Linked DNA regions of Homo sapiens: region 2 is linked to region 1. The links come from fine-mapping of genetic effects on gene expression. A gene starts in region 1. The other region holds a variant in brackets. All regions are shown on one strand. Distances are between the middles of the regions. Region 1 holds the start of IQSEC3 (IQ motif and Sec7 domain ArfGEF 3). Region 2 overlaps IQSEC3 (IQ motif and Sec7 domain ArfGEF 3).

The links. PIP is the estimated chance that this variant, and not a neighbour inherited with it, causes the effect.
Region 2: its variant is the best candidate, but not a certain one, in a credible set for the expression of IQSEC3 in subcutaneous fat (FUSION, PIP 0.89).

What each region holds. Positions count from the first base shown.
Region 1 is chr12:64,475-68,856 of GRCh38, forward strand. It overlaps IQSEC3 (IQ motif and Sec7 domain ArfGEF 3), which reads left to right and starts at 2,293. Exons shown (of 14, transcript NM_001170738.2): 1 at 2,293-2,962. The coding sequence starts at 2,409.
Region 2 is chr12:126,470-130,851 of GRCh38, forward strand. The region is part of intron 3 of IQSEC3 (IQ motif and Sec7 domain ArfGEF 3); the gene reads left to right. Among named protein-coding and RNA genes, the nearest start is that of IQSEC3-AS2, 17 kb to the left of the region's middle. The variant T/A (reference allele first, on the strand shown) is at 2,556.

The DNA of each region.
Region 1 (4,382 bases):
TATCGTATTCGTCTCTAATTTGCTGTCCAAGCACCCAATTCTTGGACAGCAAATCAACTAGGCAAACAAAGAAAATTCAGAAAAAAGAGTTTGAGTTTTTGTGTGCCCTTGTTTCATCCCCCAACCTCCATTCTTTAGCTGGAATGCTGGTCACTACCAAAGCATCCTCCTGTGTGCTGTTTCCCCTAACCGTGAGCTCAGCTGTGGATAAGCTTCCTTTATTCATTCTTTACCAAAGAAAGTTTGCTAGGAAGATAAATGGGAGAAAAGCAAAATAAAAACACATCAGGAATGCAGATAAACCAATATATGTGCAGAGCACAAGTTCCTTCTCATAAGGTCATTCAAGTCTGGCACCACGTGGTGGTGGGGGGTGGGCCAGCTCACTGGGCACATGGTACCCATAAATATGCCTACCCTGGGGGAATGGAAGGTTGACAGGGAGCCTGATGGACATGTGTGTGAAGAACGGAACAACACAATAACAAACATGCGAAGCGTACTCATAGCCCTTCCTCCTTCCCATCCCATTCCTATAAAAGAGGAAAGAACAACTCATTTCCTTCACGGGGCATGGTGGTATGCATCTGTAGTCCCACCTACTCAGGAAGCTGAGGCTAGAGGATTCCTTGATCCCAGGAGGTCAAGGATGGAGTAAGCTATGATCCTGCCACTGCACTCCAGCCTCGGTGACAGACAAGACTTTAAAAAAAAAAAAAAGTAAAGGAAAAGAAAAGGAAAGGGATATTTCCCTGCCAAATTAATTTAAACCAAGTGCTCTATTTCCATTCATTAGTTTTTTCCCTGCTGCCTGATGTATCTTTCTCATATCTGGCCCCCTGTTCTGTCTACCTGTTGAAATATTTCCCATTCTTCGTGGCCCAACTTGAGTAACACCTCTGTCAGAACTTATCAGATCAACACAGTCAAATGAATCCTCTCCCTCCCCTGAACTCTATGGCACTTGGCTTGAAGAGCTCTTACAGAAATCTTGAGTTGTGTTTTACTTATTCATGTGCATGGCATATCTACTCTATGAGATTGGAATCAACTTGATTATAGAAATGATAACTTATTATCTATGCTAGATGTGGCTTGCATAGATTCTGTACATTACTTTGCACCTAGTGAGTGGTGATTATTGTAGACATGAATGAATGATTCAATCGGTGCTGATTAATGTCTCTGAGCTTTTGCTCATGCTGTCTTCCCTTTATGGAAAACCCTTCCCACACCAAGGGTCACTTCCTGTAAGAAGCCTCCCTGGATCTCCAAGCTGCTGGCTCCTATAGCACTCTGGGCAAACCTCTGCCTGATTACTCACCACCACTATCATACGTCAAAGTTAATCATGACCAATTTCACCCACTTATTTATAAGCTTCAAAAAGCCTAACATTCCATTCTAGTCATGCTTCTCTTACCACCATCTAGCACAGTGTTTGGTAATAGTGTGCATTTTATAACTGTTTGTCAAATAGAATGATCTATTCAGAAGCTTCTGGAAGCGTTAGCCCTTGCCACAGAGGACCTCGTTTATTTAGTGTTTCTATCAGGAACTGCCACAGTTGTCTTGAGGTCTCACTCCCAGAGGAAACCCAGCATGAACAGCCTTCCCATCCCAAGTTTCGTCACGGATGAAGGAAGGAGCAGGACCAGACGCTCTTTAGGGTCCCTTAGAGCCCCAGGATTCTTGTGTTCCAGGGAATCCCCTGGCAGAATAGATTGCTGCGAGCAAAAGAGGCGAGTGTGGCCCCTCCTCAGCAGGTCTCTAGATGAACCCCAGCCTCTGGAAGGCCTGGACCTGGGAAAAAAGAATTCGCGTCCCTTCAGGGCCCCACGCCTTCCTGTCCTCCAGCACATTTCTCTTTCTTGGCCCCACCTTCCCTTTTTCTGCTTCCTCTCTGCTGGCCTCTCCCCTTCTCTTCCTTTCTTTTCTGTTTCTCTTCTCCTACAGGTCCCACCGCACCTTCCCAGTATCGCTGCTTCCCCTTCGCCTACTTCCCAGTCTGGCCAGTCAGATTCACCGTCCTTCTCGGGTCGCCTGCGTTATCTTGCTTTCCTCCCACGCCCCGACAGAGGCTCCCTCTCGCTGGCCTCCTCCCTCTCCTCTCTGCCCTGCAGGCAGCAGAGCCTTCGCTGACGCCAAGAGGCAGCGAGGTGGGGAGGCGAGGAGTTGGGGAGGTCTGGAGGTAGGGGGTGGGGTGGGGGTGGGGCCTTGCGCAGCCGCCCCGCCCCGCGATGCGTGTGTGAAGGTCGGGGTGGCAGTGACGCGGCGCCGGCGGGGGGAGGGAGGCTGGGCCGGTGGGAGAGGGAGGCGAGCCGACCGCTGGGCTGCTGGGCTCCCGCGCCCTCGCGCTCCCCGCCGCCAGCCCAGGCGCAGGCAGGGCGCAGGCGGCGGCGGGCGGCATGGAGAGCCTGCTGGAGAATCCGGTGCGCGCCGTGCTCTACCTCAAGGAGCTCACGGCCATCGTGCAGAACCAGCAGAGCCTCATCCACACCCAGCGAGAGCGTATCGACGAGCTGGAGCGGCGGCTGGACGAGCTGAGCGCTGAGAACCGCAGCCTGTGGGAGCACCAGCAGCTGCTGCAAGCCCAGCCTCCGCCCGGGCTCGTCCCCCCGTCATCGGCCCCGCTGCCGGCCGCTCCGGCCACCGCTCCTGCCGCCGCCGCCAGGGCCCAGGAACCTCTCCAGGACCAGGGACAGCGCTCAGCAGCCGCGCCGCATCCCGCGCCCGATCGGCCGCCGCGTCAGCACCACGGACAGCTCCTGGAGCAGCCCCAGCGGGGCCCTGGCAGCAGGGCTCACACACCCCAGTCGCCCCACAAGCATCTGGGGACACAAGGGGCCGTGACTGACAAGGAGAAGGAGCGTCCCCCGAGTTGCTGCGCTGCTGCCGGAGCCCTCCTTCAGCACAAATCCCCCTCCGCCCTCGGCAAGGGCGTCCTGAGCAGGAGACCTGAGTGAGCGGGGAGAGGAGATGGGCACTGTTGTGGTGGGAGCAAGGGAAGCAAGTGGGTGTGAGGGAGAGACGGGGACGTTGGGTGCGTAGGAGTCTAAAGGACCGGAGTGATGTGGCCTGAAGGCGCCAGAAGTGTGCAAAGGAGATTTTGGGTAAATGAGGGAACGATATCCCTGCTTGAGAAGGTTTTGGGGAATGCTGGAGCAAAAAGGAGTAACCAGACCATTAGTAGGAGCAAAGGAGGAAGGAGGTGGGTGTTAAGCGATTGGTGATACTGGGAACTGACAGCATTTAAACGGGGTTAGGCTGGGTTGAAGTTCGAGTGAAGATTAAACTGTAGAAAAGAGAACCATTGAAGGAATCTTTTTAAGTGAGAAAAAATTTGGAAGGAAGTTTGGGTAGTAAAAGTATTTGCATGGAGACTGAGATGTGAGAAAAGCTGAAGGCTTGGAAAGAGGCATGTGAAGAGCTTTAAAAAGGCTGGGGCCCAGGAAGAGTAGGACTGGGGTAGAGGGGAATCCAGGAGGCCGGGGACAAACCTGAAAAGCAGGAGTGATGTGGGAAACCAAGGGAGCTGGAGGCAGAGGAAGAGAAAATGTGGCTCTTTAGCTGGTGAAGTGGGAGCCACAGCTAGGAGTGGCTCATTTAGGGAAGCTTTCTCTTCTCTGACCTGATTGGACACCCTTCCTCTGAATTCCCGCAGAGCCGAAGAGGTGCAAGGGAACATCCCATCAAACCAATGGAGGACTCAGGCATGGCTTGAGGACTCAGTCTGGTTACAGCTTTTTCCTCCAACTCAAGGAGGGTTTTTCATACAGGGTGTTTGGCCGTTGTTGAAAGGGAGCAATGACATGGGGGACAGTTGGCAGATGGAGTTGGTATTCAGATGCCATGCCTGTTTAAATCTCCCTGTTAAGGCCAGCAACTGCAAACCCTTTTTTCCCGGTTATCTGGTGATCACTGAAATCTTGCCTTGGGTCCTGAGAGAAATGTTAACCTCTCAGTTCCTAGAACTTCAAGCTCTTTCTTCACTCAGGAGGTCCATGAACTAGGAATATGGGAAGAAGATATGAAAGTGTCTGGGATGTTCTCTCCTCTGTACTGGAAAGGCTGTGGCCATGTCTGCTTCTTTTCTCTGATTAGGCAAGTGATGGAGAACTAAACAAAGAACAGTTCAAGGGAAATTGTCCCTGGTCAGCACCTGACCTTGACAATGGTGATGCATAAGGGAATGGGGAGGGGGAAGTAGAGCTGAGAATCTCATCTTCATCCAGGTGCATTAAGTCTGGGAGATACTTGTGAATATTTGCTGTATTCCTTCAAAACTCATTTTCTTTTACCATCTGTGGTAGAGTTAGAGAAGTTGGGTTAGGGCAGGGTAGCTCACAGAGCACGTTGATCAAAACCACAGGATCTAAGAG
Region 2 (4,382 bases), 62 kb after region 1:
TTGTGGGGCCCCCATTGAACCCCCAAAAAAGATAATGCCTCAGTTTGTCTTGGCAGACAAGAGTCTTGATGGAAGGTGTGTGTGTGTGTGTGTGTGTGTGTGTGCGCTTAGAGAAAGGTGTGATGGTGTGATACTGTTAAGGAAAGAGCTTTGAACTTGGAGATGTAGACATGGGATCCAGTCCTCGCTCTTCCTCCTATGAACTCAGTGACTTTGGGAGTTGCCAGTTAAACCCTCTGGGCATTCGTTTCCTCATCTGCAAAAAAATGAGAATTAACTTTGAATCACCTCCAAGGTCCCTTCTGCCCCAAAATGTGTAGGTTCTAGAGAACAATTCTTCAACCCAATAGGCAAGGTATCTTCAGAAAGGAAGCTAGTGGGAAGGCCACTAAGACTGAGTCAAGCCAAACTAACCTCCTTCCTCTCTTGGCATTGATGCCAAGCTCATATCCTGGCTCAGGCCAGCTGTAGGCAGCACATCAGTAAAGTGTTTGACCAAATCCCCCAAGATACCCTATGTGCACATGCCAGGAATGTGTGGATTACTAACAATATAGTAAGGAGGGTTGTTCTCAAACCGAATTATCCAAAAAATATTCATCAAAAAAAATCCCAGGGAGTTGAGTGGACATGCTGTCCAGGTCACTGATAAGGCACCAATTTGAGGCATACAAGTTACATTCACCTGGCTTTCTGATGACATAAAGCTGAAAGAGAACAGCTGATACCTTGGTGATAGCATCCCAGACTTTGTAAAAACCTCATCAGGGGCCAGGCGTGGTGGCTCATACCTGTAATCCCAGCACTTTGGGAGGCCAAGGCGGGTGGATCACGAGGCCAGGAGTTTGAGACCAGCCCGCCCAATATGGTGAAACCCTGTCTGTACTAAAAATACAAAAATTAGCCAGGCGTGGTGGCGCATGCCTGTAATCCCAGCTACTCAGGAGGCTGAGGCAGAATTCCTTGAATGCGGGAGGCGGAGGTTGCAGTGAGCCAAGATTGCACCACAGCACTCCAGCCTGGGCGACAGAGTGAGACTCTGTCTCAAAACAAAACAAAACAAAACAAAAAACACCTCATCAGGACAGAAGGATGGTTTTAATGAAAAAAAAAAAGTCGGATGAAATGTGGAAAAATCTAAAATTCTGCTCCCAGCTTCGAAAACCCCACAGCACTAGCATAAGACATTCAGGCCCTTCGCCCACTTTTTGAGAAGTGTCTGTTCATGTCCTTTGCCCACTTTTTGATGGGGTTGTTTGTTTTTTTCTTGTAAATTTGTTTGAGTTCATTGTAGATTCTGGATATTAGCCCTTTGTCAGATGAGTAGGTTGCGAAAATTTTCTCCCATTTTGTAGGTTGCCTGTTCACTCTGATGGTAGTTTCTTTTGCTGTGCAGGAGCTCTTTAGTTTAATTAGATCCCATTTGTCAACTTTGGCTTTTGTTGAACATGGCACACATCTATAGGAGACTGAACTCGACTCCTCTCTCTTCTGCCATGAGCTGTATGGCCTTGGGCAAGTTGCTTGACTTCTCTGGCCTCAGCTGCCTCCTATGTCTGGGACTTCACAGGCTCTTCCCTTGGCCTCAATCTCTGAAGTTTCCGCTCCCCTCCACACCCCTGCACTTGGCCTTCTCTTGCTTTAGTACTTGCTTTAGGTACCTCTTCCTCCTCTCAGGCAGTTTTCCCTGCCTCCCAAGCCTGCACTGGGTGTCCCTCTCAGTCATCCCACAGGGCCCGGGTGTCCCCGTCACAGCCCTTCAGCCCTGTGTCAGCATTTCCTGTTTGCTTGACCCCCTCCTTGAAGGCAGGTGCATGACTTGTTCCTCATTATATTCTCAGTGCTTAATGCAGTGCCTGGCGAAGAAGCTGCTGGAAGGATAAGAGACGGGAAATGATCACTTAGTGACATAAAGGGGGATGGGATGGGTATACAGCATGGCGCCAGGAACTGACTCTGCCTTAGGTCTCTTTGAGATCTAACACTTGATATTCCAACCCAGTGATTCCGCCAGCCACACTGAATCCCGTGTTCCATGGCCTGGGAGGGGTGTTGGACAATCTTAGCTCCCCAGCCCACCGACCCGCCAAGCCTCCTCTGTCAGCCAGTCCAGATCCCCAGGACGGTTTTCCTTGGCTGTTCTCCTTCCTTCGCCTCTGCTCTAGCCCCAAGCCCCACTGATGCTGCCTCTTAACAGTTCCCGAATCCCACCCTCTCTTGCCTTCCCCAGTGCCCCTGCCCCAGGAGGCCAGGCCATCCTTCCTCTTGCCTGCACGCCGGGAGACCTCCTGTGCTTCCCCTTCTTTGAGCTCTGTCCCTTCCAACCTCACCTCCACATTGCAGCTGAATCATCTTCCTAAAGTGCACCTCTGACCGCGCTGATCCTCGGGAAAGCCTCTGATGGCTCCTCACGGTGTGCAGGACAGAGGCCTCTCCAGGCTCCCTGCCACAGTCCCAGCCCCATGGGGGTTCCAGCCGTTCCTATTTGCTGTCCCGAATCTCAAGCCACCCTCACCTCTGGGCTTTTGTGTGGCTTTGTTTCCTCTCCTGGGGAT[T/A]CTCCTCACCTGTCCCCGACCCCATCTGCTGCATCTGGAAGACTTCTGCTCATACTTCAGGTCGCAGCCGAGGCACGTGCTTTTACCCATTGCCTGTTGCCTCCTCTGTGCTGTCTGGGAGTGGGAGCTGTTCCGCTCAACAGCATGGACCATGTTGTTCTCAGGGCTGTGTGGAGTTGAGCAGGTGGTGCTCGGGACACCTCCAGGGTGCTGCATAGCCCACGTGAAGAGCCAGCGCTCCTGGAGCTGTGCCCTGGGAACTGTCCTGTCCTTGCCCATCTTTGCCGCCCTGCACCTTGCACAGTCTTGGGCACCTAGGAACTGCTCAGCAGGGAAGGAACATAGGAATGAAGGCACAAGTGAATGAGCAAACGAGGCCTACCCTCCAGCTTCCTGTTCTCCCTGCTGGCCCCTTCCCCAGCACCTGTCACAAGTCGCACAGCAAGACGGTCCTCCTGCCAGCTCTTCTCCCCTTCTCCCTCTGCCTTCGACCCTCTCACCCCACCCCAGCAGTCCTGGGGGATACAACCTAGGGCAGGCCAAGGAGTGAGCATGCAGGTCCCTTTGGGGAGCCCTTTAGGAATAGAGGGCCTAGGTGTCATTTTGAAATTCCTCCAAGCCCTCTAGGGAGTTTGTGTCCTGTTGCAGAGCGACTGGAGCCCTTCTTAGCCATCTGAATTGCAGAGCCCTCTGGGCTGCTCAGGCCAGAGGGCTGTGGAGTTGCAGTCAGTAGAATCTGGGCCCTGCTCCCCGAGCCGGGTCCTGGACAGAAGCCATGTTCTGCTGGAGAGCAGCCCCTCCCCACAGATCCCCATACCCCAAGCCTCAGGGTCCAGCCTCACTATGGGGCACCTCTTCAGGAAGATGTGGTGGCTATGTTTCTAAGTCACTTTCCCTCTTTGCATCTTGGTTTCCTCATGTGTGAACCAAAGGCTGTACCAGAGGGCCTCCTGGCCCCTTCCCACGCTGAAAGTGAGATTTCTACCATGGGCACAGAGAGCACCAGGGCACCAGCCTACAGAGGACAGTGGTGAGGACAGGGCACTCCATGGGTTGTCCCTCTCCCCGGTTCATTCAGTTCAGGGAACAGCACTGCACAGCTGCTCTGTCGCAGGCCCTGTGCTAGGCCTGGAGATGCTATGATGCAAAAGATACAGGCCTAGTCATCAGGGTGCCCACAGCCCAGTGGTGGGCAGACACGGGGCCAGCACCAGTGTTACTACCTGAGCACTAGCTCTGTGTCAGGCCCAGGCTAACGGTTGCCATGTGTTATCTCCCCGGGTCTGCACAACGTCCCCGTGAGATTGGCACCATTACCGTCCCATTTCTGGAATGGGAAGATTAAGGCTGAGTGATGGTGATGTTAAGTAACTTGCCCAAGGACACAGTCCTAGGAAGTAATGCAGCCAAGACATGGACTCCGCAGCCCATGGTTTCGACCCTGTACCTTCCACCATCTCTTGGCATTACAGTGAGGAACAGGCCCCATGGAAGTGGCACACAGGGTCTGTGGAGCATGAGGAGGGCAGGCAGCCCAACCTGGGATCAGAGCCAGCTCCTGGGGCAGCCCCACTGGAGGGTCTCATGACCTCACTACTAGCTGAGCCATAGCGTGTCCCCCATGCCTACCTGGCTGCCCACTCCCAGGCAGGCCTCAACGCCCTGCGTGTCAAGCACTTGCTGTATTCCAGACAGCAGGCTGGGAGGAGGGCACACAGAGCAGGCATGAGTCCCCTGCCTTGCAGGAGGCCACAGCCCTGCCCAGCACAGACCCAAGGCTCCTGTGGGCCTCTCTGAACACCCCCAAAGCACCAGCTTCCCCAGTCT